Linked DNA regions of Homo sapiens: regions 1 and 3 are each linked to region 2. Evidence: fine-mapped expression QTL. A gene starts in region 2. Each other region holds a variant in brackets. All regions are shown on one strand. Distances are from middle to middle.

Evidence for each region. PIP is the estimated chance that this variant, and not a neighbour inherited with it, causes the effect.
Region 1: its variant is the best candidate, but not a certain one, in a credible set for the expression of ELOVL5 in whole blood (TOPMed, PIP 0.59).
Region 3: its variant is the best candidate, but not a certain one, in a credible set for the expression of ELOVL5 in whole blood (INTERVAL, PIP 0.54).

Annotation. Positions count from the first base shown.
Region 1 is chr6:53,282,726-53,293,627 of GRCh38, forward strand. It overlaps ELOVL5 (ELOVL fatty acid elongase 5), which reads right to left. Exons shown (of 8, transcript NM_021814.5): 3 at 9,051-9,238. Among named protein-coding and RNA genes, the nearest start is that of MIR5685, 11 kb to the left of the region's middle. RefSeq lists an enhancer at 364-533. The variant T/G (reference allele first, on the strand shown) is at 5,588.
Region 2 is chr6:53,342,253-53,353,154 of GRCh38, forward strand. It overlaps ELOVL5 (ELOVL fatty acid elongase 5), which reads right to left and starts at 6,698. Exons shown (of 8, transcript NM_021814.5): 1 at 6,565-6,698. RefSeq lists a silencer at 6,099-6,538.
Region 3 is chr6:53,264,219-53,275,120 of GRCh38, forward strand. It overlaps ELOVL5 (ELOVL fatty acid elongase 5), which reads right to left. Exons shown (of 8, transcript NM_021814.5): 5 at 10,872-10,902; 6 at 9,002-9,126; 7 at 6,375-6,509; 8 at 3,186-5,052. The coding sequence ends at 4,909. Among named protein-coding and RNA genes, the nearest start is that of MIR5685, 7.3 kb to the right of the region's middle. The variant G/A (reference allele first, on the strand shown) is at 3,992.

The DNA of each region.
Region 1 (10,902 bases), 60 kb before region 2:
AACAGCAAATAGCCTTTTCAAAGTATTTTGGTAAACAAAGTTATTTTTCAAATAAAATTCAATAATCAATTGCCAGGTTGCTTAAGTGTTTTTCCAAATCCTATTTTCCCACAATAACGTATCTATTTTAGGAAAGCCTGAAGGGAAAGAAAAACAACCAGTTTAGAATATTATGTTTCCAAAGCAACTGCTCTGTGGTTCCATCAGATGGCCTTCAAACCCAGAGCCTGGGGAGATGCTTTCACAGCCCACAATTACAGAGGTTAGAAAGCACAAACAAAGCATTCAGTCACCAAATGCTCAACTTCTTTCATCTTTCCAATAAAAAAGCATCACAAATTTTCAAAACAAATTCAAAGGAAAAAAAACTGACTTCTGGTTCTAGCAACGTGGCAAACTGAACAAAAGCAGAACCAACTCTCTCACTATAAACACAGGTAGGAAAGTGGTATAAAACACAGCAAAAACTCCAACACAATCAATTCTTACCTATAATGCGAGGGAGGTCCCCACAACAAATTATTCTTTAGAAAAAGAGAAATCAGCTTAAATTCAACTCCTTCCAAAATCTTTATGTGGAAAAGGCATGTTTACCTGAGATGACCCCCAACAATACTAGTTTGGGATGCTTACACAGAACACTAGGCAAACCTTTACTTCTGTTTTAGGAGGTAAAGAAATTTAACACAGACAATAATTATCCCAGAGGCATTACCTCACAGATATATCTGTAAGCAAGCTTTTAATAGAATACTTAAAAAGGCAACACAGCAAATGGTTAAATTTGGAGATCACTGTCATCTAATCTATATCACTGGGGGGGACAATACTTCCATGTTATGGAATAAAAAAAGAGCAAGCAGTGAACTTTCAGAAGTAAAAGATACATAGCCATTTAAACTAAAAACACAATAGATGGATGAAACAGATTAAAAACAAATGAAGGAAGTAGGAGTGAATGGAAGAATGCAAAATTTTCAAAGTGCCTAGAAAGAAAAAAAGATTACCCTACAAATGAGCAAAAGTGGGACCACAGCAGACTTCTCTGGAATAAATCTTCAAAGTGCTGAGGAAAAATAACTGTTAATCTAGAATTCTATGCCTTGATAAAATATTATTCAAGTGTAAAGGCAAATAACATGACACTCAGACTAAGATATTGCCCTTCATAGAAAGAACTACTTACGAAAAAAATTGAATCAAAAAGGAAAGAATAAATTTCACAGAGCAAAGAAAATCAGTAAACACTGATGGCAATAATGGTGATTATTTAGGACCTTAAAAAAAAAAAAAAGTGAGGCCAGATGTGGTGGCTCACGCCTGTAATCCTAGTGCTTTGGGAGGCCAGGGTGGGAGGACTGCCAGAGCCCAGGAATTTGAGACCAGCTTGGGCAACAAAGTGAGACTCCATCTCTACAAAAAATAAAAATATTAGCTGGGCACAGTGGCATGCTCCTGCAGTCCCAGCTGCCTGGGAGGCTGAGGCAGGAAGATCACTTGTGCCCAGGAGTTTGAGGTTACAATGAGCTATGACCATGTCACTGCACTTCAGCCTGGGCAACAGAGCAAGACCATCTTTTTTTTTTTTTAAAAAAAAAGGTAGAAATAACTCCTGACAACAGTAACATGAAAGATGAGGGGTCACAGCTAGAATCCTCTAAGGTCCCTGGTATTGTTTAGGAGAATAGAAATACTGACTCAACTGAAACTGTCGTAAGTTAAAAATGCATGGTAAACATCTATGGGTAACCACTCAACAGAATGAATAACTTTTGAATAAGTACAATAAAAAATAATGGTTACAAAAATTCTACAAAGCAGTAAAGGAGAAAAGAAGGCCAAAGAAAACATATATACACAAAAAAGGTGACAGAAAGTACAGGCATACCTCATCTTTGCTTTATTGCACTTTGTATATATTACAGGTTTTCTTAACTGAGGTCTGTGGCAACTCTGCATTAAGCAACTCTATTGGTACCATTTTTACAACAGCACGTGTTCACTATGTGTTACTGTGTCACATTTTTGTAATTCTCACAATTATAAAATATTTCTCAAAATATTTCAAATTTTTTCACTATTATTATATCTGTTGTGGCGATCTGTGTGTGGTTACTGAACTTTGATGTTACCATTGTAATTGTTTTGAGGTGCCATGAACCACACCTATATAAGACAGCAAACTCAACAAATATTGTCTGTATTTTAGCTGCTCCACAGACTTGCTGTTCCCCCTAACCATCTCTTTCTTCTCTGGCCTCCTTATTTCCTGAGATACAACAATATTGAAATTGGGTTAATAATCCTACAATGGCCTCTAAGTGCTGAAGTGAAAGGAAGAGTAGCATGTCTCTCACTTTACATCAAAAGCTAGAAATGATTAAGCTTAGTGAGGAAGGCAGGTGGAAAGCTGAGACAGGACGAAAGCTGGGCCTCTCGTACCAGGTTAGCCACGTTGTGAATGCAAAGGAAAAGTTACTGAAGGAAATTAAAAGTGCTACTCGTATGAACATAAAAATGATGAGAAAGCATTAGTAGCCTTATTGCTGAAAGTTTGAGTGGTCTAGGTAGAAGATCAAACCAGCCATAACATTCCCTTAAGCCAAAATCTAATCCAGAGCAAGCCACTAACTCACTTCAATTCTGTGAAGCCTGGGAGAGGTGATGAAGCTGCAGAAGAAAAGCTTGAAAATAGCAGAGGATAGCTCATAAGGTTTAAGGGAAGAAGTCATCTCCATAACACAAAAGGGCAAGGTGTAGCAGCAAGTGCTGCTATAGAAGCTGCAGCCAGTTATCTGGAAGATTTAACTAAGATCACTGACGAACATGGCTACACTAAACTGTAGCACATACCACTGCACCTGGGAGCATTTTTATTTTTAATTTATCTTTTTTTTCTTATAAATAGGGTTTTACTCTGTCACCCAGGCTGGAGTGCAGTGGTGTGGTCATAGCTCACCGGAACCTTGAGCTCCTGGGCACAAGCCATCCTCCCACCTCGGCCTCCCAAGTAGCTAGGACAACAAGCTCGAGCCATGCCAGGCTAGTTATAAAATTTTTTGTAGAGAGAGGATCTTGCTATGTTGCCCAGGCTGGTCTCAAACTCCTGGCCTCAAGCAATTCTCCCACCTCGGCCTCTCAAAGTGCTAGGATTACAGATGTACACCATTGTGCCTGGCCAGCATTTTTAAATTTAGGTATGTCTACTGTTTTTTTTTAAGATTTAATGCGATTGCACACTTAATAGACCATAATGTAAACATAACTTTTATATGCACTGCGAAACCAAAAATGGTATGACTTACTTTATTGCAATACTCATTTTATTGCAGTGATCTGCAACTAATGCTGCAATATCTGAGGTATAAAATAACTATTAACATGCTAAATGAAAATGAATTAAATTTCCCCATTAAAGACAAGAGACTGTCGGATTCAGTCATTAAACCCCTATGCATTTATCTGGTCAAAAAACTTACCATATTTGCATAAGGAGATATGTCTAAGAAGATTCTTGGCACACTGTTAATTGAACAACTTGCATAAACCCACATAGCTGGGCACAGTGGCTCACACCTGTAATCCTAGCACTTTGGGAGGCTGATGTGGGAGGATCACTTTGAGTCCAGGAGTTTGAGATCAGTCCAGGCAACACCGTGAGACAATGTTTCTACCAAAAATAAAAAAATTAGCCAGGCATGGTGGCACATGCCTGTAGTCCCAGCTACTCAGGAGGCTGAGGTGGGAGGATCGCTTAAGGCCAGGAGTTCTAGGCTGCAGTGGGTGAGGTATGATTGTGCCACTGAACTCCAGCCGGGGTAACAGAGCCGGACTCTGTCTCAAAAAACAACAACAAAAAACAATCTAACAACATACATATCCATCCAAAGAAACACTTATAAAATGGTGTAATAAATTCCAACACTGAAATAATACAAAGCAGATAAAATGAATTTCTAATTAACTATAATTAACATAATTATAATTAATGAATTACATCTATACGACTCAAGATGAATTGGTCAAAAATATACTGACTGAAAAAAATCTATTTGAAAAAGAGTTTAATTAGTATACCATTCACGTATGGTTTTTAAAAACTATCTTAGAACGTACTATGTGTTGTCATGTATACATATATATGTAGTAAAAATACATCCAGAGAAAAACTGTACAAATTTCCGAAGAAGTCTGGAAAGGGACTGTACTTTAGATGCATTTTTGTAATGTTTTCTTATTTAAACAAACAAACAAAAATCAAGCATTTGTTAGGTGCACAGATATCATCTATATAATTTTATTTTAAATATTTTCAAATAGTTCCAAAATTACAATTTAAAATAAAAATTGAAAAGGGGAAGAAAGATAAGTTTGGATTTATGCCAAGCCAGATGCATCCATCCAGCTTTTTCAAAATTACAAATTTTTTTCTTTCAAAATTACATTTTAAATGTTCTGAATATTTTAAAGCGCATTCTCTCACACTATTCACAACATATAGTTCTAACTGCAAGGGAGGAAACATACACAGATACTCAAAAAATAATCTTGTCTGTAACCCATGATTTATCTTTGACTACTAAATAACTTGAAAATGTGGTTCCGACATTTGCTTATTTTTGTATTCTAATACTCAGGATCCATTTGGTGGAGTAATCAGGTATAGTAACAGTGGGATGAAGAAGGTGGGGAAAACATTGTTTCATTCTAGCCTAAGCCAGTGAGTGTCAGTGGGGCAAGGATGGGATGCTAAGGGGCACATCATGAGAGTACTTTGAAAGGAATGCATCATAGTCCGTGGGAACAATGGGATAGCCAAAGAGGCTGGGAGAAAAAAAAATTCACTCTCTAGAGTTGAGTCCTCTTCCTTAGTACGCTCATGGCTTCACAGAGGAATTGGATCCTTCCACACAGTCCTCAAAAGTGAGAGGGAGACTGCCAGGCAGAAGTGGGAGTTTTAAGGGGTAGAGCCCAGAAGAATGAAAGAGCCTGGTGTTGCTGGGGTTTGAGTAGAGCTCAGCATAACAGATCGGCTAAGAAAGGCCGGAGTGCCTCCTTCTGAGGAAAGGAGCCAGCCATCCTTTCAACACAGTGTTCCTGGGGAATTCAAAGCCATGTGCACTGCACAACACTGACCCTGTTTTCTGGCAGCTGCTGCTGAGTCGAAGGATCAGTTCGTGAGGCACAGGCAGATCGACGGGGTTGCTCCCTTTTGGACTGTAACAAACACAATTAGATCCTCTCTGCTTAGGGTCTAAGAGGTCTGAGGCACAGCAGGAGAAGAGTAGACACATTGAATGGCTTCACATGAGGACAGAGCATCTGCCTAAGAGGGAAACCACCTGTAACACTCTAACAAAGGAGTTAAAAGTGGCTTTGATAGCTCACTGGATGGGTCAGGGGAAACCTGATCCAACCAGGTAGATAAGGCAGAGTGAGGGAAAGCCACCGTTTGGCACCATGTATGTAGAGGTTCTCAATTTTGGGACTGGAGACAAGAGAAAAGACACATGGATAGTGCAAAAAATCAGGCTTCTCTTCAGAGGACAAATGCCCTGAATCTCGGGTGGCTAAAAGGCGCACAAGA[T/G]TTTTAAGTTTGCTGTAAGGGCATCGTTTTACAAAGCTAAGTAACTAATGCAAACTAAGTTGTTTCTCTTCTATAACCTGGAATTTCATTTCCGAGCTTTCACCATGGACTGTGATATTAGACAACCCCTAATAAGCAAAAGCAAAAAGGATTGCTATAAAGTCCAATACTTTCAAATTAAAACATACCACTAATTCAAATATGCTCCAAATCAGGGATCTATGACCTTTTTCCTGGAAATAAACACTAAAGTTAATGAGATATAGAAGTAATACCTCTTCTCTCCTTTTAATTTTGTTTCTACCAAGTACACAAACTATGAGCAAGTCTATATTCCTTCTACATTTTAAACTCGGTTTCACAGTTTTAAAACTGGGATTTAGTTATTTTCCTTCTAGTAAATTTAAAGTTTCAGTGACTTCCTTTCATTTCCTTCTGATCATCTCCCTTCTTTCAAGACTTCTTCCTATTGGCCAGATGTAGTGGCTCATGTCTGTAATCTCAGCACTTTGGGAGGCAGAGGTGGGTGGATTGCTTGAGCCTAAGAGTTCAAGACTAGCCTGGACAACATGATGAAACCTTGTCTTTACGAAAAATACAAAACTTAGCTAGACGTGGTGGCATGCTCCTGTAGTCCCAGCCACTTGGGAGGTTGAGGCGGGAGATCAGTTGAGCCCAGGAGGCGAGAAGCAGTGAGCACCACTGCACTCCAGCCTGGGCAACAGAGTGAGACTCTGTCTCAAACAAACAAAAAAACCCCGCTTCTTCCTGTCTCCTTTAAGTGACAGTTAATTTTATTTTTATTAATCTAGAACTTGCTAAAGCAGCTGTGAATTTATGCCACAGAATTAAATAAACAAAAATACCAAAGACTACTTATTTAAAAAATTCTTTACAGCCCCAAATATGCAGATAAGCAGGAAGGTAAATAAAAACTAAAATAATGACCATTACAGGTGTGTGACCACAGAAGAATGGCTCTAACTCCTGGGACATTTCTCTAAAATGAGGGGCCCCATGGGGCTTCATGATCTCCTCAGTTCGTTCCATTGTAAAACTCCATGACTGCTCTTCTGTGTCTTAGCATTCAATGGAGTAGAAATGCTAAGTATAAAAAGAAAAATGGCCGGGTGCGGTGGCTCACGCCTGTAATCCCTGCACTTTGGGAGGCCGAGGCGGGTGGATCACCTGAGGTCAGGAGTTCAAGACCAGCCTGGCCAACATGGTGAAACCCTGTCTCTACTAAAAATACAAAAAATTAGACAGGAGTGGTGGCACATGCCTGTAGTTCCAGCTACTAGGGAGGCTGAGGCAAGAGAATCGCTTGAACCTGGGAAGCGGAGGTTGCAGTGAGCCGAGATGGCGCCACTGCACTCCAGCCTGGGCGACAAGAGTGAAACTGTCTCAAAACAAACAAACAGAAAAACGTGTAGCTAAAATGATATTTGAAGTTTGAAAAAGGACACATGACAATGGAATTATTGATGGGTTTTACAATATGTACAGGAGAAAACTCGGACAAAAACCAAATGTGAATACCATCAACTTGGAGCACTAGGGCTTATTTTCAACTTGGGTATATCTGACCTGGATAGCTTTTTGTAAACTTGATTTAATTTAAGGAAACATTGCCTCTTTGTCTATTACCTCTCTATGTACTCTAAACTGTGAGTTAAAAATGTAGTTTCCCTATTCTGTATATTTCTTAAATTTCTGTATTCAGTGCTTAGTCACTGCTCAAAGTCTTCTCTTCTCACCAAGCTATCAGAGGAAAATCTGTACCTTCTATTACAATGTGTTCAGAACCCCCCACATCCACTCAGATGCACACAGCTGTACTTTATACAGTGTTTTTCTTCTCTTTACCAGGGAATCATCTGTTTAAGAGAGGATAAATAATGAAATTATAGCTATATTTCTAGGGCTTAAGAAACATTTAAGGCAAATGCTTAAGTTCTCTAAAAATCACATGAAATATTTTTCTCTATTAATATTGCCATGTATAATAATAAACTCTGTAAGAGTTCTCTTAAAGACATGGCTGTATTATCTATCAATTATGGAAAAGTAAGCAGTTCACTCAGAAACCTGACAGCTTGCTGTGGTTTTGTCCCTTGAACACAGAAATGTGCATAGTGCTGGGGCCAGGAGTCACTCCTGTGCACTTCCCCTGGCTCCAGTCCTGAACTCTCCATCTTGGAGTCTAATTAAACTGACTTCATTCTAGAATAGGACAGAAAAAAAAGCAAAAAAAGGAGTTGTAAGCATTTCTTGGCATGTCAAGCATAAAAGTAATGCTAGGAACATCTACCATTCTATTCAGAATATCTGTACCTTGGCTTATGAAACATACATGGGAGAACAAGACACAGATATCCCACAGCTGCAACACCTCTGATAATCAAATATGCCTGCACACGCCCACACTCCTGCACACCACCACACGTAGACAGGGAGACACCATCATGGCCTGAGGCTGATGGAGAATTCATTTTGACCCCTGAACACTAATTTTAAGATTCATGTTTCTATCTCTCCTCTTCCTCCCACCTCTACCTTCTTCTTTACTACTCCTTGAAGAACTAAAACCAAAATGAAACCCTGAAAACCTATACAGGAGTGCCTGTATAGGTTTTATCCAGGGCTTAATTCTCCAGAAGAGTTAGAAATAGGTTGGTGCTGTAAGAATGAAAAGTGGGTAGGCTTTCCTGGAAAAATGTACACAAACTGCTTACCACCAGAGGGAAGCTTTCCTCCCCCTTTTAGCTTTAAAGGCTATAGTGTTACCCCTTCAAAATAGGGAGAAGAGAAGGGTTGATTCTGATTTTTCTTTCATTTTTAAGCTATAACATTTGCCTTTGAGATCATCAAATGTGATTTTCAACATTGCAGTGATATAAAATAACTGGGCCTGAACTCAGACAGACAATTCAAAACCTAAATGCAGATCTCACCAGTCACACTCCTCTTAGCTTTTAAAAAACAACTGAGATTTGACAAGTTATCCAATCAGAGAGGGTGATGTGCCACAAAACATACCAAACACAAGTGCCACCCACTTCCTTCCTCCCCTACCTTCAAACAAGAAGCAGGCACTTATTAGATGCTTAATAATAAAATGCTTTCACATGTGTTTTTCACATTTTGTTCATTTTCCACTCTGTATTTTGCTTGCATGAGAGTATTTCTGAAAATACTTTAATTTTGAATATCATACGAAACATAATAGAAGAATCAATAACAAAGGCTTCTATTTTAGATATTCTAGAAGGCATACTTGTACAAACAACTCTGACATTTTGAAAAATCGATTTTAAAACACACTCATAACGCATTAAGATACTTGCTTGCCCAGTTGTCTCTACACCCCAAGCGGCCACCTTTCCTCATTTAGGAATACAATTTAGGACAGCAATATGAGTGCATTTATGTGAAAGGAAGACTGTGTTAACCTTTGACTTACCTCACAGAACATATACAGAGACAGCAGTGTGAGTCCAAGGTTATACACCACTAAAATCCCCCGGCAAGAGAATGGCTGTTTATTCCTCATGTATTTTGGTCCCAGCCATACAATTAGTAAATATATGACAGAGCAGATAAATGTGGGTATATAATTGTCCAGAAGAAACCATCCTTTTACTCTAGTATCTGAAAAATTAAAAAAAATTAATGATATATAAAAACATTCACAACTTTTCAAACGTTGAAAAAATTTCTCTAACCATGATGATATAAAAGTCACCTGGTATTCATGTTCTTAATTCCAATAAAGCAATCAGGAGAGGAGGCATGGATTTTCAATACATATCAAACAAGGTGAAGCTCCTTGTTACATGCTCTGAATAACAATGTATTATTCATGATTTTTGCTCAGTAAAATAATAATACAAATATTCTTTCCAAAGAACTTAAGAAGAAAACAAGGAGAAGGCTACACTTCCCATTAATTGGATTTATTAACCAGGTATACCAGATTACACATAGGGTGATAAAACCCAAGAAATGGCAGTCATTGAACTCTGAAGTCCTCCATCTCAGCTGTGTGTCAGTCGGCAAGTGTGGCCAGCACATGCAGACTCAGAAAACGTGCTGCTTAGCCACGTTAGTGAAACTGGCACTAATTAGAAAGGCAGCCTTTGCTATGAGTGTAATGGTCAACAGCAGAGAGGACAATGATTTAAAAACAAAACAAGGGCTGGGTGTGGTGGCTCATGCCTGTAATCCCAGCACTTTGGGATGCCAAGGCGGGTGGATCACCTGAAGTCAGGAGTTCAAGACCAGCCTGGCCAACATGGCAAAACACTATCTCTACTAAAAATATAAAAATTGGCCAGGCATGGTGCTGCACACCTGTAATCCCAGCTACTTGGGAGGCTGAGGTGGGAGAATCGCTTGAAATTGGGAGGAAGAGGCTGCAGTGAGCTGAGATCGTACCACTGCACCCCAGCGTGGGCAACAGAGTGAGACTCCGTCTCAAAAATGAAAATAAAAACAAAACAAAACATGAAGGTGAAGCAGCAATGATCAGATAAATGCCTATTTAAAGGGCAGTATTTAACAAACTGAGGAGTAGTAGCATGAGAGCGAAGACCTAGGCGGATCCAGAGGAGATACTGGTATAGGAAGGGCCTCTCCTGCCCCTATTCCTTTTCTTAGGCAGGGAGGAGGGAGAGGGAAACAGGTCAGCCGCCAGCAGCAAACTGACAACCTCTTCTTGGATGGCGGGAAACTCCTTGGCAGCCAGAGCCCCTAAGTGTTATGTGTCCCCTGAAAGATTCAGCTTCATACTCTGGCTGACCCCAGGAAGCTACCTCTGAAAAGCATGCTCCCCTTTGAACCCTGCTATGATGTTCCCCGAAAACCTGTGGCTCCTCAATCTTAACTACCCGCCAAGGCTCACAACTCCAGAACATGAGGCACATGCAGCATTCACCTACTGCGTCTTCAGAGAAGCAGCAGTTGGGAGGACAGCCTTTGCCATTTCTTTAATTTTTTTATTATTCATTTATTTATTTATTCTGAGACGGAGTCTCACTCTGTCGCCCAGGCTGAAGTGCAGTGGCGTGATCTCAGCTCACTGCAACCTCTGCCTCTAGGGTCCAAGCGATTCTCCTGCCTTAGCCTCCAGAGTAGCTGGGACTATAGACACACACCACCACACCCCGCTAATTTTTGTAATTTTAGTAGAGACCAGGTTTCACCATATTGGTCAGGCTGGTCTGGAACTCCTGACCTCAGGGGACCCACCTGCCTTGGCCTCCCAAAGTACTGGGATTACAGGAGTGAACCACCACACCCGGCTCTGCCCTTTC
Region 2 (10,902 bases):
CCCTAGGGAGATACATCACATTTCAAACTCCCCTGGAAGCAAATGAATAATTACTGAATTTGGTATCATGAGAACTATTCTTCAGGGAAGGAGAAATTCATAACACTCACTTTGTTGTAGCATTTGCTGTGCCAAGACCAAAGAGGAACAAGTACTACTCTGGGGTTCAGAAACTCATAAAACACAGACCTGAGTGGCCAATTCGCCAGCATGGCTTCAATTAGGTCTGTTCAGCATGGGCTTATAAGAGATTAATTCTGACAGGATGAAATTGTTGACATGAGGAAAAGGATGGGGTAAATGTGGAACTTAACAGAGATGGAACCTGTGCTCGCAAGAGGGTGCCTACCTAATATAACCATAAAGATTACAGTTTAAAATCACAGGTATATTTCAATAAAATTGTTATTCTCCCAATTAGAGAAAGCATGCCAGTATCAGCACTAAAAATCTTAAAATAAATCAGAAATTTTTCCCTAAATCCCAGTCAGCCAGCAGACATCAAATAAAAGGTAAAAAAGTCCAATCTAATAATAAGGAATACTAAGACATACTCATGCCTGAATGCAATTACAACTGTACTTCACACAGAACTGGCAGAAGAGGATGGAGGAGCAAGAGTGGGAATTTAGTCTTTCTAAAAGGTCACCAAGTATGAATATTTTAAATCCAGAGACTACACAATTCTAAAAGTGAATGCCTACAAGTCCACTAAAAATGTTACCATGGAGCAAACACGCCAGTGGGAACCAAAAAGGCTGGTAATAACATTTACGGGTTGAAACTGGGGTTGGTGGTGAGGGTTCCTATTGCAGAAACTGAAAATCAGGTCAGGATAGGCCAGAACATCTCCAGCAGTGATGTTTTAATCTCATAAAGAGAAAACCAGCAGCTTGCTGCTGCTGCTGCAATCTCCATCAACTGTTCTGACATTTTCCCTCCCTCCCTCCCTCCTTTCCTTCTTTCTTTATTTATTTTGGGACAGAGTCTGGCTCTGTCACCCAGGCCGGAGTGCAGTGGTGTAATCACGGCTCACTGTAACCTCCGCCTCCTGGACTGAAGTCATCCTCCCACCTCAGCCTCCCAAGGAGCTGGGACTACAGGCATGTACCACCACATCCAGCTAATTTTTGTATTTTTTGTACAGATGGGGTCTTGCCATATTGCCCAGGCTGGTTGCAAACTCCTGAGCTCAAATGATCTGCCCACCATGGCTTCCCAAAGTGCTGGGATTACAGGTGTGAGCCACCGTGCCCAGCCAACATCTACCTTTCTAAGATCTAAATGATCTCACTTTCATTCTCTATCCCTGGCCAAACAGAAACAAAACAAAAATAAAAAATAAAATTTGCTCTAGGCAAAAATGAAAATAAAATTTAATCTTTCATTTTAAAGGAAAAGAGACCAATGCTCAGAGTTGATTTTCTTCAAGTTAGGACAAGAAACCAAGGCAGCCAGATTCTATACAAGAATGAGGCACCCTACTTAAACAATCATGCCTTCCAATCTTCTCAAATTACTTCAGTTTTAATAAACACACAAACATGTATGTACTTTACTATAAACCTGTAACGTGAAGCTACATGTGTTTTAATAACTATCATGGGAGCAGAGGTAACCCAGCTGGTGGAAGAAGCCCAGAAGCCTGGCTCTGCCAGCATCTGGCTGCACCACCTTTGGTAACATTGGGGCTTTCCTTTTCTCACCAGGGAAAAGTGTAGGAGGCATCCCAATTCTGTAATATTAAAATGTGGAAAGTTACCTGCAGTGATTTTAAGATGCCACTGATTATAAGCTCCATCTCTACCCAGATGTGAAATGTGAAAAGCTGACAATAGATGAAATGTGGTAGAAACATGTTCTTGCAGAAAGGCAACCAAAAAAATAGCTAAGACAAAGGTTGGCCGTGAAGAGGAGGAATTGGAAGAAACAGCTAGTCTGGATATCTATCTAGGCTGTGGGGCTATTTCCATCTGATCACAAAGCTCCCTCTTCTCTTTGGAAGAGTATCCCTCCTCTTGCTGGCCCTCAAATCCAACTGGTCTTCAAGTCTTATCCTGGACACAGTCTCTCACAATTACCTCTCTCAAGTCTGTGCTCATGGCTGTGGCTTCAGGTCAGGCCTTTTCACTGCCCTGGCCATCTCTAACAAACCCACAACAATCCACCCTACACTCTAACAAGACTGTCTTTCTGGAGCACAGCACTCATAATGTCCTCATTCTTATTCAAAAGCTTATTGGTGGTATTCTACCAAACACCTTAGGAGACGGAGCAGGCCAGGGTGTCAAGGTGATCTGAGCTGGAATGCTTTGTGACCCCAAATCAAGTGTCTAAACTCTGGGCCTTTTTCCACCTGTAAAATGGGAATGCTGTAGCATCCATTAATAATAGAAATAAGTCCTTGTGAGGGGCTCAGTGCAAGGTCTGACATACAATAGCTCAGTAAGAGTTAGCCATTATTATTACATCAATAACTTGCCTTTCTCACCTTTTCTTCCACTCCTGCCTTCTAAACCAGCTTCTGCCAATTGTGCTATTTGCTTTTTGCCCAATGATTCCACACTCGCTTACTCTCCAAACTCCCTCTTGCCTAGAACGCATGTCCTCCTATTCCTGCCTATCAACTAAGAGTCCTTTACAAAATGTAAGGCTAAATTCTAATTTTAATTCAAGTCAATTTAGTTTAATCCAATCATCCATTCGGTCCTTAAAACAGACGCTGTAGCTGACTTCCTGTGTTCTGCAGGCCCTTCTTAAAGGTGAAGCAGCTAGCTGAGGAGATTTAACTTCACTTCCCTGGTTCTGGGATGGGCCCCCAGCTTATCAAATGTCCACTGTTCCAGTTATTGCTTCAAGTAACCAAGGCCTAAGTCAATCACCTTAAGGTAAAGGACTCTTTGGAGGGTGGCAGGAAGTCAGGGAATCCCCATGTGAGATTATGGTGGCAGCTGCTGTCAGTCATCTTGGAAAATCAGTCTAGGACATAACAGACATCTGAGGGGACTTCAGAGAAATGGAGCAAAAGTCCTGCCCTCAGGACTTTTCAGGTCAGATGCACAGGTAGGTCTCAGTTGGGTTTTCTGTTTCTTGCACCAAAAGCATCCTGACCAATTCAGGAATGCTAGGCCCTTAACATGGATAGCTCTGCCATAAAGCTTTCTCAGATATAAAGATATAAGTGTCCCAGAAATCTGCTTCTGACTCTCTTTTGGTCCAAGGTGTAGATTAAGTATGTGTATACAGGCTTAAAGTATATACTAAATCAGGAAACCCTCTGGAATCAGGAACTGTTGTAATTCATTTTTGTATCCAGCCCCTCACACCCAAAATCAGTAACTGAGAAGTCAATGAATTAATTTAAAAAATGAATCAAGTGTGGGCTACAAGGAAGGGAACAGATTTTAGACAGATTTAAGAGACAATAAATTGTTAGTCTTGGATGGATTAACAAGAACCTTTAAACACAAGGTTAGATTTTTAAGTTGTGGAGTAACAGTGTTACATAATGGCACAGAGCCCACTGGGCAAATAATCCTGGCAGCACAGGGATATATGAAGGAGCAGAGATGTTGCAGGAGACAGAGCTATAGGAATTTGGACAAGTCACTTGTCATCTCTAGGCCTTAATCCTAGAGATTCTTTTTTATTTTTCTTCCACTTTAAGTTATGCGATACATGTGCTGAACGTGCATGTTTGTTACATAGGTATACATGTGCCATGCTGGTTTCCTGCACCTATCAACCCATCATCTAGGTTTTAAGCCCTGCGTGCATTAGGAATTTGTCCTAATGCTCTCCCTCCCCTTGCCCCCCACCACCCGATAGGCCCGGGTGTGTGATGTTTCCCTCCCTGTGTCCATGTGTTCTCACTGTTCGACTCCCACTTATGAGTGAGAATATGCAGTGTTTGGTTTTCTGTTCCTGTGTTAGTCTGCTGAGGATGATGGTTTCCAGCTTCATCCATGTCCCTGCAAAAGACACGAACTCATCTTTTTTATGGCTGCATAGTATTCCATGGTGTATATGTGCCACATTTTCTTTATCCAGTCTATCATTGATGGGCATTTGAGTTGGTTCCAAGTCTTTGCTATTGTAAATGGTGCTGCAATAAACATACGTGTGCATGTGTCTTCATAGTGCTCCTCAATTCTTAAAAAACAACTGGGGGATAAAACCTCACAGAGGTGTTATAAGAATTACGTGTGGAAAGCAACCGTTTATGTACATGTGCGTATTAATAAGTACCTGACACAGAAAGCATTCAAGGAAAGACTTATTTACAGGTAACTAATGAGAGGATTAGCCTTTTGATAACAGAAGAGCTGGTAGGCAAAGAGGAGGAATTAAAAAAAAAAATTACAAAATCTTTTAGGAGAGAAGAATGTAGCCAGGAAAGCAAGAGGTAAAACTCTCTCTTCACACTAACTACCCACCTAGGCACCAAAGTTACCCTCAAGAAAAGTAAACAGTTTTGCTTTGATTTGTGTAATTCAAGCTGGAAATAAGACACCCAAGGATGGATGCTCACCTCTAGAAGCAGGAAGACAAGCAACCATTATGCAGGGAGCAAAAGAAGAGGTAGTGGAAAAAAAGATTCTTGCAAACAGAACATCCAAAAATTAAGGTCTGTAACCAAGAAGAAGCTGTTGATTTCAGGGAATGGGAAGGAAACATTTTCAAACCACCATTTGGCAGACTCAATGCTGGGCTCTCATTTGCATTATCTCTTGAAATCCACAATGATCCTGCCACATAAAATCCCCATGTATAGACAAGGAAATTGAGTCAAGGAGGTGAGGTCAATATCTGAAGTTACAAGATATTTTTCTTGAAAAACATCAAATTTTAGTAAGCCTTCTACTGTCGCTTTTCAGCAAAGTTCTGTACTACATTCTGTAACATTACCTATCTGTAACTATCAATAAAAATTTCCCCTTTGTCTTCAATTAGAAATAGAAACGAAAATGCAAAAAGAGAAACAGTACAGAAAAAGTTCCTGGCAATAAGAAGTTAGAATCTAGGGTAAAAATCTAAAAGGAAAATGAGTAACATTTCCCTTTCAAGTGCAGAGCTTTCCTGGAGAATCCCAGGCAGTGTCTGAGCTACCAGAAAAGTAACCCACTTGTCCCCAATCACAGATGGAAGGCTAAAATGTTTGTCCACGGCCATCTAATGCAAAACCGCCTGTTTCTATCTGTAGATTCTGCACGAAATGCTTTTGGCTGAGACGTGCAAGCAAAACAAGTGCAGACCAACAGGTTATCTGCCAAGCGGTTAGGAGAATGAGTTACAAAACCTGACAAGCAACATCAGCTCTTCCGTACAATTCTATGAAGCACTTCCTGCCACGGGTCCCGCTATTTAAAACAAATTAGGCTGCTCGCTCCCCACAAATCCCATCTAGCACCTCTCGGTTCCTCAGTCTAGCTAATAAACCATGCACTGGATTCTTCCGAAAGAGACCCCCCGCCCCCGACCCCGCCACCTCCGCCACTTTGCATAACTGGCCAAATGCATTCTCCAAATTTGCAATCAAGGAGCTTAATTCACAATTGTGGATGGGGCGGGGGGAACCGCCAAGTGCAAGAACACGGAACGGTTGCAAGACGCAGTTCAGCAAGAACAACTCTTGCTCTAGGCATTGCTCCGTCGACCCGAGGTGGTGGGGTGGGAGAGTCTTACCGGCGTGGAAACAGTAAAAAGGCACTTTTCCTTACAACTCGCAAGACAACACACACTCTAGCTCCCCCGGCGCAGAGCACAACCGCCCCCCCGCCGCGCGCCTCCCTCGCAGCCAACCGCTCCCGCCTCTCCAGGGATCAGGCTCCCAGAAAGGGCCGCCCCGGTCGCCCCCGAGTCCCCGCCCTCTCGCTTTCCCACCAGCCTCATCCCTCCCTGAGTACCAAGGGCTGCCGTTGTCTGGTTTCAATAAAAACTGAAGCGGTCCCGAGCTAGCAGGCTTCCCTCCGAGGGGCGGACGGAAGGTCCGCAGGGTTAACGGAAGCGGAGAGAACAGGACAAAAAGGAAAGGCCGGAGAGTCCCCCCAGCGGCGCCCGGTGCCCGCAGACCCTCGCACAGGCTCTTCGAACTCACCCGGGTTTCGCCGACTCCAAAGAAAGCGCGCTCCCTCCGAGAGCGCTCCCCCGGCTCTCCCGCCGCGCGCTCCGGCCCGCAGGGCGGGAGGACCCAGGCGGACAGATCCATCCCTCCGCGTCTGGTGTGGGCACGGTGTCGTGCCCCGCGGCGCCTGTCAGCGCGCACAGGTGGGACCGCAGCACAGAGAACGCTCCCGAGCGCCCTGCCTCAGCCTCGGCGTGGGGCGAGCCGCCCGCGCCCGCACCCGCACCCCTTTCCCCGCGCCCGAGGAGCCGGGCTGTACCCCGGAGCCGGCGGAGCTGGAGGCCGCGGGCGGAGCGCGGGTTGCCCCGGCAGCTCTTTCTCGGCACCAGGTCCGAGACCTAACGGCAGTTCTCTCTGACCGCTTCCCGGCCGCGCGCTCGCGCGGGTGTCATGGCCGAGCGGCGGCCCCCGACGAAGTTTCCCGGAGCTGACGGCTTTACCTTTTAGCCCAAGGGGCGGCAGCAGCTTTGAGCAGCAGCAAGGCGGCGGCGGCGGAGGGAGCGCGGGTGGCAGCCGGCGCAGAGGCGGATGTAGAAGGAGACACCGGTGGCTAGGACCCGCGCGATGGGAAGAGGAAGGCGCCGGCTATCTACAATCAGAACGTGGGCTGACCGTGACGTCACAATGGCGCGGCCAGCCAATCGGGACCCGAAGGATGAATCAAGCGCTATGATGTCATGCGGCCCGGGAGCCAATCGCGGGACAATAGAACTTTCGTGATCGTAAATTCCAGAATCCGATGCGGTGGAGAGCCTAGGCCGGGGTTGGCCCCTCGGTTCCACGTGTCTCTGGGAAATTTTTTTCCCCTTTCTTCCTAATAAGCCTGCGTGGAACGCAGAGCCTGCGCAATAGCCCCGGTGAAGTTGTCGATGCCCTGAACTCTGGTTTTTTTACTGCCAGGCGTGGCAGGAGTCTGTGGCCGCATTTGGGTGGCAGAAGCCCACCCTCGTTACGGTCTCCTCTATGAGTTATGTCATGCTGAAGGGGATCCACTTCATCGTTAAAGCTGAAAGGGTTAAATGCCCACGGAGACCGCCGGAGTGAAGGTCTGCAGTTGAACAAGATAAAGGAACAAGAACAAAACGACTCAAAACTGTTGTAACCATAACTCCCTTGCAAAGGATTTACCGTGTATTTTTCTTAGGGATTCTGATTTTTCTTTGGAAGCCACTATCAACTCCATTTCTACTCTAGAAATTATTCTAAAGGATTGTTAAATGAGGAAAGATGGAATCAGTGTCTTTTCAGCTAAGCATATTTAAGCACTTAAGACAAAGGGGGTTCAGGGCATAAACGGAAGATCCTTGCTGTTTTTCACTGATATTTGGATAATTAAAGACCTTCATTAGCTTTGTATCCTACTGTTTCCCCATTCAAACCCCAGAGATTTAGCCTTTCTTCGTGTGCCCCTCTTGCTGTATTCTTACTCCTCTATGTGCATCCACCTAACAGTCGGCTATTTAATGTAGGCAAATTTATTCTTTTTTTTCTTTTTTTTTCTTTTTTGAGACAGAGTCTCGCTCTGTTGCCCAGGCTGGAGTGCAGTGGCGCGATCTCAGCTCACTGCAACCTCCACCTTCCGGGTTCAAGCGATTCTCCTGCCTCAGCCTCCCAAGTAGCTGGAATTACAGGCACGCGCCACCACACCCGACTAATTTTTGTATTTTTAGTAGAGATGAGGTTTCGCCATGTTGGCCAGGCTGGTCTCGAACTCCTGACCTCAGGTAATCCGCTCGCCTCAGCTTGCCAAAGTGCTGGGATTACAGACGTGAGTCACCGAGCCTGGCCGGCAAATTTATTCTTTTACATATTTACAATGTAATGCTTATCACGTGCCAGCTGTGTTCCAGGCAGTGGGCCATTGCAATAGGAATGCAAGTATACAAACCATGTACAAATTAAGTAAATTAAACATATACAAAGAATCGAGATTGTCAGTTGCCATTGAGCTCCACAAACACTGAATGACTTCAATTTGCTAGATACTATGTTAGGTATTCAAAATTTGAAACCTTCAAGGACTTCTTGGGCCTGGAAAATGATACAGTCAGGAAGCAACTACAATGCAGAGTGGTAAATGCTGCTATGGACATCAAGGGACATGAGAAAAGCATATGCTGGTGGCATAGACTATTTTTTTGAGATATCTCCTTCATTCTTCACGCTTCTGCCAGTAGTCCAAGGCCAGGGTTCATCTCTGTCATCCCATCTAAGTTTTGCCTTTCCAGGTTTTAAAAGTTTCTAATTTAACTTGAGATTCCAAAAGTCTTAAGTTTTACGCCGCACTTGTTTGAATTGTGCTTACCTATCAATAAAATGTTTTAAGCCCATTTGACCAAAATATCTTTAAGTTCAGGCTTATATAACTGTCAAGCTATGCATTAAATATCAAGTGATTTTTCTTATTGTATGATTAAGTATGACGTTTTGCTGTTTTTTCCCATCCCCCAAAGGCTGCGTTTTTACACAGTTCTTTGTTGATGTGTGTATCTTGGTTTCCATTATAGCATCACCACCCTGTATTGTAGTTGCTTTCTGATGGCATCATCTCACTCAATCCTTGGGGTATATGTACCCCACTTTAAAGACCACCGCTTTAGGTAGTAAACTCCGTTGAAGGGGAAAACATGTTGAATTTTGCTCCTTATTGATCTGTAGATCTTAGTACAATCCCTGGCATATAAGGGCTCAATAAATACGTGTTAGATGAGTGAATCTGTGAACAGTTACTCCCCCTCACCATCACCATCACTTTTCAGCTCCAGAGTTCCAATCCTCTGTCAGATAGTCACATCCCAGGATTATTAGATTATTAACTCCTCTCAAACATGTTGGTACGGTCATGTTCTCATTAGTTCTCCAGCCAGAGACTTAGAGTTCTCAGAACATATATATATATGCAAATGTATTATTTTACATATTACAATGTAATGTTTATCATGTGTCATATATCTCTGGGGGAAACTTCCTCCCACCCTAACAATTACTTCGTATTTCTGCATCATTGCACTCATGAGTAAAGCTGTAAGAAAAACAGTGGAGCCGAAACGACTCCCCAACTTAACTGTGGGATTTTTTCCAAATAAATCAAAAGAATACCTAGGATCCAATGCCAGGCTTACTAAATAACAGGGCTCAAGGAACCTGTTTTAGGTAGCATCAGAATCAGATTCCTGGCCAGCTGGGTTCTGGAAACTGTGCTGAAGCCATCCTTGCCCTTCTAACCCACCTATCCAACAATGTGAGCCCATGTAAGGTACAGTTAACAAAACCTTGTAACTATTACCTGTTTGTTCATAGCATCCACATGGTAGTCCCCCAAGAAATGATTGTTGAATTATCTTCATTCAATAGCTAACTATTAATATTTTCTTCTTTCTCCTTCATGTATTTATTTATTTATTTATTTATTTATTTTTGAGATGGAGTTTCGCTCTTGTTGCTCAGGCTGGGGTGCAATGGCACGATCTTGGCTCATTGCAACCTCCACCTCCCAGGTTCAAGCAATTCTCCTGCCTCAGCCTCCCAAGTAGCTGGGAGCGCCCGCCACCACACCTGGCTAATTTTTTTGTATTTTTAGTAGAGATGGAGTTTCGCCATGTTGGCCAGGCTGGTCTTGAACTCCCGAACTCAGGTGATCCACCCACCTCGGCCCCCTAAAGTGCTGGGATTACAGGCGTGAGCCACTGTGCCTGGCCTTCTATTTGTTTTTAAATTCTGGTAATATTTTTCCTTTTGCTCTTAGTTTTCATCATTGAGCTCAAATCTCCTCAAACCACACACTTCTAAGTGTATTAGAAGGTTGCTTCAGTATTGCTTTTGAAAAGGAAAGTACTTAACATCCTAGGCAATTTGTTTTATTGTTATAGCAGCTGCAGTTGAATTAAAAAATACAATTGGAACTTTCATTAGAATACAATTCTGATTAGTGAAACTTGTTTCATTAGGACGTATTTGCATGACATAATGAAACACATCCTTCCAGAAAAGATATAAGCCAATGTTTGCCTCTGGACATATCAAAGTTGACTAAAATATAGGTCAAGTAGCAGCTATTTTATGCTAAAGATGACACTGCAGTCTCTGTTGGTTCCTACGTTCTCCGCCTCCCCCCACAATCCTTTTTTCTTCTGTTCTAATTTGTGTTTTCTATTATCTTGCTGCCCAGAATTCCCACAGGCCACCTGGCTTGTCTTTGTCGGAGGCAGAGGTAGATTAAAGGCAGTTTCTTGTCCTCCTCAGACCTTGGAGTCAGTTCCATACTTCAATTGTTACTTTGCTATTCCTTTTCTTCATTGCTGTTCAACAATATGTCCTGCAGTTTATCTCTGTCCTTGTCCTTGAGTGTTCATCTTGATGAACATGAACTACTTGAAGACACTGCCCATGCCTGGTCTGCTATATTGTTTTCTTAATGACTAGCAGAATTTCTGGCAAATCACAAATGTTCATAAATATTCGATTAATGAATGAACAATTTGTACAATTTCTGGATTCTCTAGATTTTCTTCTCCACTTCCTTTTACACTCTTTAGTACTGTCTCCAGAAGTGACTGGGCAATGAAAGAGATCTGCATCCCAGTCTTCTGTATCCACATTTCCTTTGCAGGTGATATCATCCCCTTTCATGTGTTTGGATTTCATCTATGGTCGGCTGACTTCCAAGTGTATTTCTCCAGCCCACACATTTTCCCTGATTTCCAGACTTACGTACTTAACTACTTATTAATGACTTCTCTAAATGAGATATATTCATAAATGAGATATCCAAAAGACAT
Region 3 (10,902 bases), 78 kb before region 2:
TGGAATGCTGTCTTCCCAGCACCTTCAGGCTCCAACTACTGAAACCCAGATGGTCTCTGAATGCTCAGATTAAAAGCCAACTCCTTTACAGTGCTTTTCTTACCCACCCTTGCTAGAAGGGTTCTCCCTCCCTGGACTCTCATGGTAGCTGGTTTATACCAGTTTACGGCAGTCACCACAACCATTTTACACAGAAGGCACATGTGTGTATGTTTGATCCCAATTCAGTAGAGGCTCCTGCGAGGGCCGGTTGTTTTCTCACAGATCCCTGTTTGCTCAATACACCTAGCTCAGTCCTCTGTACCAAGCACTCTCCCAGTGAACAAGGTCACATTCTGCAAAGGCCTGGCCAACAGAGTAACATAAATGGGGCAACAGACAGGGTGGTAGGTACTGTTCAGGAGAGTCCTGATTATGTGAGAAAGGGAAGCATTACAACTGGGTCTCTGTCACCACTACATTAGCCATTCACTGGATCCTGCACTGCTTGTTCCTACAATTTCCACCCCAGAAGTCTTCCTTGATCTGATCAAGAGTCGAATCCAGACATCCTCTGCAAGCTATAGCAAAAACTGGCCCAGGAACTTTCTTTTCATGAGCCATAAACATACCGAAGAAAGAGAGAAGATAAGGACTACAAAAATGTCAAGGATAACAAAAGCAGGTTTTAAATCTATGCCTGGAGTAAGAACTAATGGCCAATGAAGCAATGCTGAAGAGCAGAGCAAAAAACTGACAGCAACCACTATTTGGCTCCATCTGCTCCACTGAGGACAATCATTTCCAAATTAAAGAGTGTAAAGAAAAACCTGGTTAGGATTTGAAGTCCAAGAGTGATAAGGGGATAGCAGGAAACACCTGTTTTAAACGAGTTCTCATGAAAGACATGTCAGTCGCTGAAACAACCTGTGGATATGACTGCAGAATTGTTGTCAGAACTCCAGGGAAACAATGAACGAAGTCCAGATACTGATAATCACTGCCCTATTTTCCAAAGTAGATTCTAAAAACTCCAGAATGGTGAACTTAATGTAAAACTCTGGCAAAATCAGGAATAATATAGACGGTGAACATTTGACTCCTAACAATTGCTGATTTCTTTTCAACACTGATTTAACAAAGAAAATGTCACACGAAATAACTTCCTTCCCTTTTTTTGGATAGGATTACTAGAGCAGCCAACCAGGGAAATAACAGTGAAACAATAGCTTACAGCTGAAAGAGACCAGTGGGGTGAGTTGAGATTACAATCCTGAAGTTATCACTTACACTTTACTCTGAGCTAGATGGGGTTCCAAAGGCTTTATATATACAGTATCATTAGTCATCTATTTAATCCTTACAAGGACCCTGTAACATAGAAACTAACATTACTCCTATTTGGCAGAAGAGAAAACTAAGGCAAAGTTTTCTTGCCAAAAGGTCATACAGGTAGGATTTCAACCCAGCCAATGTGGTCTCCAAGTTGTACTTCTCATATTAGTCTACAATGCCCTTCACATGATTAGCAAGGCTGCCAAAAATAGAGGGAGAAATGGGAATCCTCCCTTTTCCATACAAGAAAAAGGACAGCAGAACACATCTGCCCTCTCTCTCGCCTCTTATCCACTCACTTCTCTGACGGGAGGAGGGAAGACTTTGATTGCTGCTTGGGAGGTGCAGCTAAGCACACTTTCTTGGCATGGTAAGGTCATCAGTGTAGAATCTGCCACAAGGGGAGTTTACAATTTAAGGTAGGTAAATTCCAGGACTGATATTTAATATATTTTAATAATCACTTTATCACCAGACCAACCCTCAGAGCAACCACTGGTGTGCTACTGAGCCCTGGTAAGTTAGGTTAATAGAGTTATTAGCAAGGGTTAATTAGAGAGCCACACTGTGGTCTTAGTTTCACCAATCCAGCCTTCTTAGTAAGACACATGCTATTTTGATTCCTACTGGTCTAATTTCCAGTATTTTTTCAATTTGTTCTGAACTTAGAGGGGAAAGACAGGGATATAATTTATTCCCATCAACTCCCCAACAATCCTCTTACACCTTCTGGATAATATCCCAAGTACTAAATGCAGTTTTAGGTGACATTTCTCTGGAGTTCTGACAATTCTGCAGTCACATCCGCAGGTAATTTCAGCAACTAACATGACTTTCATGAGCACTCATTTAAAACGGTATAGGCTTAGTCTTGGCTCTTAGGTGCTTTCTAGTTTAGTACCTAAGAGCCTATACTGGGGACCATATGGTATGAAGTAGATGGAAGGAAGATGGACCATCCATGTCATCTCTCCTGTTGTAGACGTGAATGTACCTGTAAATTCAAAATAAGTAGGGTACGCTGGGAAGGGCCACAATCTGGGACATAAAATGATCTTTGGCAAATAAAATGATTGAGCTTTAGGTCCAAGGGGAGGGGACCTCATTACTCTAGAGTAGAGGTCAGCAAACTATAGGCACAGGCCTTCTGTTTTGTAATTTTTTTTTTTAAAGAGATGGGGTCTCACTCTGTTGCCCAGGCTGGAGTGCAGTCACATGACCCTAGCTCACCGTAACTTCGAACTCATGGGTTCAGGCGATCTTTGGCCTCATCCTCCTGAGTAGCTGGGACTGCTGGTATGTACCACCATGCCCAGTTAATTTTTAAAAATTTTATGTAGAGATGAGGTCTTGCTATGTTTTCCAAGCCTGTAAATAAAGTTTTATTAGAACACAGCCATGCCCATTCATTTACATATTGTCTATGGCTGTTTTTGTGCTCCACGATGGCACAGTCAAGTGGCTGCAACAGGGACTGTATGTCCTGCAAAGCCTGAAATATTTTCCAACTGGTTCTTTCCAGAAAAAAATTTTGCAGAAGACCTATGGTCTAGACCTAGGAAAGTAATTCTAACATTCTCAGGGTAAGGGGAGAGATTGGGGCCAATGGGGAGGAAGGACAAAGGAGCATATTTAGAGCTGGAACCTTTAGTGGGATTACCTGGAGGAGGCAGAGGGGACAGCATTAGGGTGGAACCACCACTATGCCTTATTATGCAGGGTCCTTCCTCATTGAGAACTAAGCAATAATATGGCCTTCCTAACTGAATTATTTATATCCATTTGTGTAAGTTCCTAGACAGTGAATTAAGTGGATTTTTCTCCAGTTCTTCAGAATTGCCAGCACAAAAAATGTAAAATGCAGGCACAGGTAATCAAAAATGTTTTAATGATTACTGTTTAGACATTTAACAATGTAGGTATATCCAGGTGAGCTAAGCACACTTTGACAGCACACTATTGAATGTTATAGTTTCTGTATTGAAATATGTAAAGACATCTGCAAATTAGTACCTAGCAATGAAGACATACATTTATAAATATACACATTCTAGGTTTGATAAGGTAAATGTAAACAGATGCCATGACTCCTTTTCAAACAGAAAACCCACAAGACTAATAGAGAACCAATAGGCTCCCTATAGTACGAATGTGCAAAATTAAAGCATGGTAAACTGATATTTACATAAATATCAAACCAACAATTAGTTTATACATTGTCAATGACCTTCTAAGATATGTCATGAGTGGTTCCAAGAATATCTTTCCCCCAATGGAGAAGGTATTCAGAGGCTAAATTCCGACACTTTAAAATGACACACATCATAGGCTTTACCTGTTTGACCACTGCCTCAAATGTGTGAGATGTGATTTTATGATAAGCAGTCTATTATTTTTAAACAAGAGGTTCTAAACACATCTTTAGATTCTAAGCAGAAAGAAATTACAAGTACTATTAGATTTACATTAAACAAGTTACCTCTATCAAATTTCTCGATTCTCTTATGCTGTAGCTATATTTGATTTTACCTTAAAAAGTTCTAAGGTCCTTTCCCCCCCTTTGTTAATTTTGGTAAACTAGGCACATTTTACAAGGAAATCTGTGTCAAAACAGATAACAGTGCATAAATCAATCCAAATTTAGACCCTGGCAACCAGTTCCCCATTGCTCATCTAC[G/A]GGACTCTGTCAAACGGTAAATAGGCAATCATCTCTCTTGAAAAGTATACATCCTCTCTCGCACTGGTGGAAAGCAAAATTGACTTTTTGTTTGCTGTATAAAAACACTTAGCACTTCAGAAATTAAAAATGGCCTACTCACCCTACACCCTTCCTAAAATCTCGAGGACAAAGAATATATATTTAAGTTTCATCACGACTGCTGTAGAGCCCCCCCCTTTTTACATTAATAGTGGCACTCAAAATAAAAAAATAAGATCTGTTAAAAAGTTAAACTGACTGTTCCACTAGATTTGAGCCTGCTTGATTCAAAGCCAATAGTACAAAACTGAAGGTGCCGTGTCTGATTTCACATCAACAAGTCACTGGAAATTATGTCACATTAGTTTCATAAATCATGGTCTTTGATTTTTTCTAAACAGAGCTATTACAAATTAATACAAACTTGAAACATACCCTAATTTAAACTAATAAGCTTTGGGCCCTGCTTTTTAAATTTTAAGGCATGTGTGTTTCTCTACCATAACAACATTGTACAAATTTACATTTACAATCACATGCATGATCTACAGTTAAAAAAAAAAGTTTGGATTACAGTGTTTTTAAATTGTGAATCACAATTCAGCACCTATCATGTTATAACTAATAAGGCAACAGCAGTGTTGTATACTATAATAATACTCCCTTTCCACAGTCTAGCGCAGGGGTCAGAGAGCCCAGAAATGTTAGAAATCTTATCCCTACTTATATAATCTGTATACGTTTTCTAGGGGTTTTGAATTGATGAAAGAAGTCCTACATGAATCACACTATTGTAGGCCAGACTAGTTACAGCAGCTGTTAACGAGCATTGGGGCACAACTCATATTGTGCTTACAATCAGATGACGTGGTTTGGAGGGTTTCAATTCTTTGACTTCAATCCTTCCGCAGCTTCCTTGGCTTCACATTGTTTTCCAGGGGTGAAAAGCTGTTGGTGTGTCCATTCACAGCAGCCATGGACCCATTCTGGTGGTCCTTCAGGTGGTCTTTCCTTCGGGAGGCCCCTTTCTTGTTGTAGGTCTAAAATGTGTAAGGGCAGATGAGAACCAAATGACCACAGTTTTCTTTATAGGGAACTTTACTGAGAATTGCATCCCTAACACTAGGCCTAGTTTCAAGATCAAATCTTATCAAGGAGAAACTCCTGAGGTCAAGTCCTCATTGACTAAATCTTTTGTCACTGGTTTCAATCATTCTTCCTTTTTTTTTTTGAGGCTTAGCCTGAGGTAAGTTAACTGAATCACAGGCTGCAACAGAAATACTATTTAAAATGTCACATAGAAAATTCAATTTACACTTTGCTTTGCCTTTTAGTATCTGGATGGCAGATGACAGGGGTTATGTGGCCAAATTGGTCTTTCCCACCTGGCAGCAGCTCTCTTGACACCCACATCCCTTGTTCGTCTTCAAAAGTTCCTCACTGCCTCGGCGACTATCTCAGCCTTCATGAACAAAGTGCTATGCTGCTATAAGTAGTTAGAATAAATGTGATTTCAGCTTCATCGGGTCCTATCCTTTCACCTTCCTTGTAGCTGGTGTATGTCCCACAGTGCAGCCATAAACTATGAAGCCCAGAAGTATATGACTTCCACTGAAACTCAACATGCCACACACAGGTGCTTGTGGGCACAGAAGAAGAAAGGACAAATGTCTGAGCCTCGGGACTTGCAGCCTCTGCCCTTGCTCCTGACCTCCGTGTTTTGCCCAGATCAGCAGGCCTTATGGCTACCAGGCACTGGCAACAAAGGCAGGACACATGTCATCTGGGGGGTGACGCATGGCAGGAGAATCAGCAGTGGCTGCAACGTGGTCAGGCTCCACTGGAAATTATCTGCCCTAAATGGATCTTTCTGTGAGCAAAGACCTACATCACCACATCATATGCTTAGGAATGAACCGAATCCTCACACCTGAAGACTGAATGTATAAGAAAGCTGGGACAAAAAAGCAGATCTCCATATCTGAGGACTGTGATAAAAATCTCTTCTGAAATTTCATTTGGCCATGACGTTCAGGGTAGTGAACTGAGAGATTTCTGATTGAAATCACCTCTCACGTCTCTGCTGCAGGTCAGAGGGAAGCAACATAGGGTCCTGCTGCACAGTTTTCCATTTCCCAGGGGAATCCCAAGACTTCCTCACCCAGGCTCTAGAACAGGATTCTAGTGTCTTCCAGTGAGCTGTGAGCCCCCCAGAGGCAGGGGCTGCTCTTGTCATAGTGACTCCATTAGAGGCCAGAGCCTGTCACCCAGCAAGGGCTCCACATGCCCATTAAGTAAATAGATGAGGGCCTTTGTTGGTAAAGGCCCCAGATTCCAAGTCCCAGAGAAGGGTGAGATTTACCTGAATGTAGAAGTTTGTGAAGAGAGCAATCAGGGAAATCATGTATCCAATCTGGAAATACAACCAACCAAGAGGGAATGTGCACGGCCAGATGACCCCGCAGCTGGTCTGGATGATTGTCAGCACAAACTGAAGCTAGGGGAACAGAGGGGATGCAGCTGAACAGGGACAGTGCATGGACGAGGCCCCACACCAGGCAGACTTTTTAACCAGCATCACCTAAATTTCTGAATTAACACTTACTACCCTTGCTGCAGGTACAGCAGTCACTTCATGAACACAACACATACACTATACTTATCCTAAACTCTAGGTGTGTTTGTCTTATATATATTCTTCCTCTGCCCTCCAAGCTATTTAAACTACCTTCTCCAAATTTCAAGGATACACTATAGAGACATCCAAGACTTTTTGTTTTTATTTTTTGAGAAGGAAGAGCAAGTGTGTATGTTGAAAGGGCACTGATAACATCACTGCAGGATGTGCCACCTGGCTGGACATCCTTCCAACTCCTTATCCATGGACGCTTCTGGTTTGGTGAAGGCTGATGAGTAGATTTAAACCTTTACTGGCAAACAACACTAAGTGCATTGATTAATTTTGATGAATAAACCTTGAAACGCATGTGAACTGGTTAGAGAAATGGTGGAAAGATGTTTTAAAAAGGGCTAGGCTCAGGCCGGGCGTGGTGGCTCACGCCTGTAATTCCAGCACTTTGGGAGGCCGAGGCTGGCGGATCACAAGGTCAAGAGATCAACACCATCCTGGCCAAAATGGTGAAACCCTGTCTCTACTAAAAATACAAAAATTAGCTGGGTATGGTGGCACACGCCGGTAGTCCCAGCTACTTGGGAGGCTGAGATAGGAGAATTGCTTGAACCCAGGAGGCAGAGGTTGCAGCGAACCGAGATCGCGCCACTGCACTCCAGCCTGGTGACAGAGCGAGACTCCAGCTCAACCCCTGCCCCTCCCCCCAAAAAAAGGGCTAGGCTCTGCACACTGTATTTCTAGCAGCTCCAATGTTTCTATGTAGAGTTTTTTGTTTTTAATTTTTGAGACAGGGTCTATGTTGCCCAGGGTGGCCTCAAACTCTCAGGTTCAAGAGATCCTTCTACCTCAGCCTCCCGAGTGACCGGGACTCCAAGCCATGACCCACTGTGCCTGGCTGTTTGCCTTCTCTTTTTTAAGGTTAGTACTGCAGACTGAGGAATAACTAGGAGTGGTGCTTAAAATAAATCCTGACAACCTGGGTAGGTTTAATCTTCCACCTCAAAGTACAGAGCCTAACGGGAGACCAACTTTGCCAGTCTGTTCTTTTAAATTCTGCTTCCGCCAGACCCAAAACTGTGGTATAAATCAATTTCTGCATCATTTCTCCTCAAGTATAACAAGGAGGTTAATCAACAATTTTCCTTTTTCACAGGTGGGTGAGAAAAAATTAACAAGGACCATATAGCAGCTGGCAGAGAGGTGAAAATGAAACATCAAACACTTCAGTCTCTAAGATTTTCTCAGACTTTTTTTTCAGATTGTTATTTTTAAATATTGAAAAATCATAATTGACTTGAAGGGATCTGAATCAGCTTGGTGTGTTTAGAAAAATGTGTTAATAATGCAAGGACAGGGCAAAGGGTTTAATGTCCACACCCCTCAGTCAGCTAGCTTTGGCCTATTGACTCAGTGTCATCTATAAAATAGGGACAATAATATGTGTTTTTCTTTTTGGTAGAGACAGGGCCTCACTATGTTCCCCAGGCTGGTCTTAAACTCCTGGCCTCAAGTGATCCTCCTGCCTCGACCTCCCAAAATGCTGTGATTACAGGCGTGAGCCACTGTGCCTGGCTTGGGGACAATAATATGAAATCAGGCTACTGGAACAATCTATGTAAAATCATGTACTTAGTATGAGTACCCAACATGTGCTAAACACTTAGGAAATGTCAGTGTTTAATATGAGCAGTAGTAGTATTAATTAGTTCATAGACGAATTCATGAGAGGAGAGAAAGAGGTTACCTATAATATACTGATGAATGCAGAAGGCTTAATCAAGGATGGTGAGAAGTATCAGGTGAAGTGGCCTGGCCCTGGCAGTAAACCAGGGGAGGAGCTGTTAACTGAAGCAAACAGCTGCCATCCTCACCAACAGGTGCTCCACTGCATGGGGGCTGAGGGGTCATCCATACCTGCCAAACAAATATCCTTGCTGCCTAGTAATGGGCTACACATACCCTGGACTCCATACTACTCTCCAGCTCCTTCTAAAACCCCTGGAAACATACAATTTTCATTTTGGATTTTGGACTATAATTAGAAAACACACACACATATACACACATACATGCATATGTGCTTATGTGCAAAAACTCAGAAGAGCTGAACTTGAAGTTGGCAAATTAGATTCTAGACCTCTTTGTACAATTCAACTAGCTGTATGCCCATGGTCACAGTTCACTATCAGTTCAAAACAAGAAAATTCCCTAATCTACCCACTTCAAGGAATTTAATTACATCAAATGAAAAAGGGTGGAGAAGGGGCATCTTAGATGCTATTACATAACACTAAAGCCAGGAAGAGGTCTGTATCCACCAGGAAGTAAGTCCTGGGGAAAGAGGCCAAGTCACTCACCAGCTGCCCCTGAGTGATGTACTTCTTCCACCAGAGGTATGGACGCATGGAAGGGACTGACGACAAACCATAGTAAGAGTACATGAGGACGTGGATGAAGCTATTAAGTGTGGCACCAAAATAAGCTGCAGGAACAGAGGGATTTGGGAAGGAGAATGTATTAGTGTTTTAAACAGAACAGGTGGTAAAAAAAAAAAAAATACAAGATTCTTTTTGAATCAGAAAGAGAGATGACTTCCAACGGAGCTGACAAACACTGCAACAGCAAGCAATGCATGGATGTGTAATGAGAATTCAATTTCCACTTGGGCAGGCAGCCACCAGGAGGCTCCGAGCCCAGGGGTCAGCTGTAGCTGCTAGAGGGGCATCTGACACTGAAGCCACGACGCCATCCCAGCACCTACAGGCTTTGCTGCAGATGCCCACCCACTCTCAGAGACAGCTGTTTTTCTTTACATGCACAACTGCCCAAATATGCTCTCTGAAGGCTGTGGAAGACAGCTGATGGGCAATATGCTCAAAAATGGTTGTTTCTATACATTTGCTGGGGTGTGGAGAGGTCTCTGAAGCCATCTTCTAATTATTTCCCAGGACTGCAGTGCTGAGGTCATACATTTTTATTAATAATAGAGTCAAGAGTCTAGCTCCTTAGAGATAAAAGAGCCATCTTATCACATCATTTTCAATGTTCAGTAGGACCACTAGTTCTTTTTCCAGACTCTGTCCTCCTCCCCAACAGTCAGCAACCAAACCAAGCCATCTGGCTTTTCCCTGTGCAGTTGCAGGTGCACAGCCTGGTGTTAGGGAAGTTTCTACTCCTGGCTATGATAGGAACTGGCTTTTGACTTTGGACACATCACATCCATTCCCTGGTTCAGTTTCTCATGGCCCAAGTGGAGCTGATTAAATCTGTCCTCCTGAAAGTTCTCTGAAAATTTAAAGCACTCTTCAAATGTAGGGAGGGGCTGTTTCTATTAGAAAGTTAGGTCAGTTAATCCACCATCATGAGCTCTGACAGTGGGAGGAAGAGCAGAAAGCCCCAACTCTACCCACCTTTCTGTGGTCTTAGTTTCCTCCCAAACCCAAAGGATCTGTATTTGGAAAGCTTTTTTTTTTTCCTAGCTCTGGAATTCCATGACACTGTGAATCTTAGCAGGCTCAGGTAATCAAGGGCAGTGCTATCCCAGAGAAAAAAATATCCATAAATAGACCCATAGGTTCTCAGTTAAATTCTTCAGTGTTTGGATGACGGGACTTTTGACTGAGACATTTGCTAAAACTCCCAGGCTGAATCTGAAGGTGGCAATCTCTGAAAATTATAAGAAACTTTGGACTACAAGCTTTCCAAAAACCAAGTACAACCTTAGAAAATTTATATCAAGTTTTGGTGCTCGTTATAGAAGACACCTTGATCACCATGCTTCAGGGAATATGAGGGTTGTTAGAACATGTGGAGACTTCCTAATGCATGACAGCTAAAGCTGTATTTCAAAATGAGCCTTGCTCCCTGGTACTCATGCAACAGTGTGATCCTATTTTCCTCACCTGCCCGTCTCAAACCTTCCACACCATACAGAAGGACCAGAAAGAACCTGGAAAGTTGCCCTCTAAGTCAGAGAATATTGTACCTATTCCTTAATATGTCCCCAGTGGTATCTCCCTCATCTCACCCAATCAGCACAGAAAGTTCACTTAACTAAAAAAGGGTTTTGTGTGCATAGGTACATAAACTATCATTAAAAGCAACTTGAACACAAAGCTGAAAGCCTGACCTAGACATTTACAGAAACAGCACCTTTTCTGAAAGCCTTAGTTTCAACTCTCCTCCCTGCTCACACCTGTTCCCCAAGTCCCCGTCTCTAATACTTACAGTGGCCGCAGGGGACCCAGTTCATCACAAA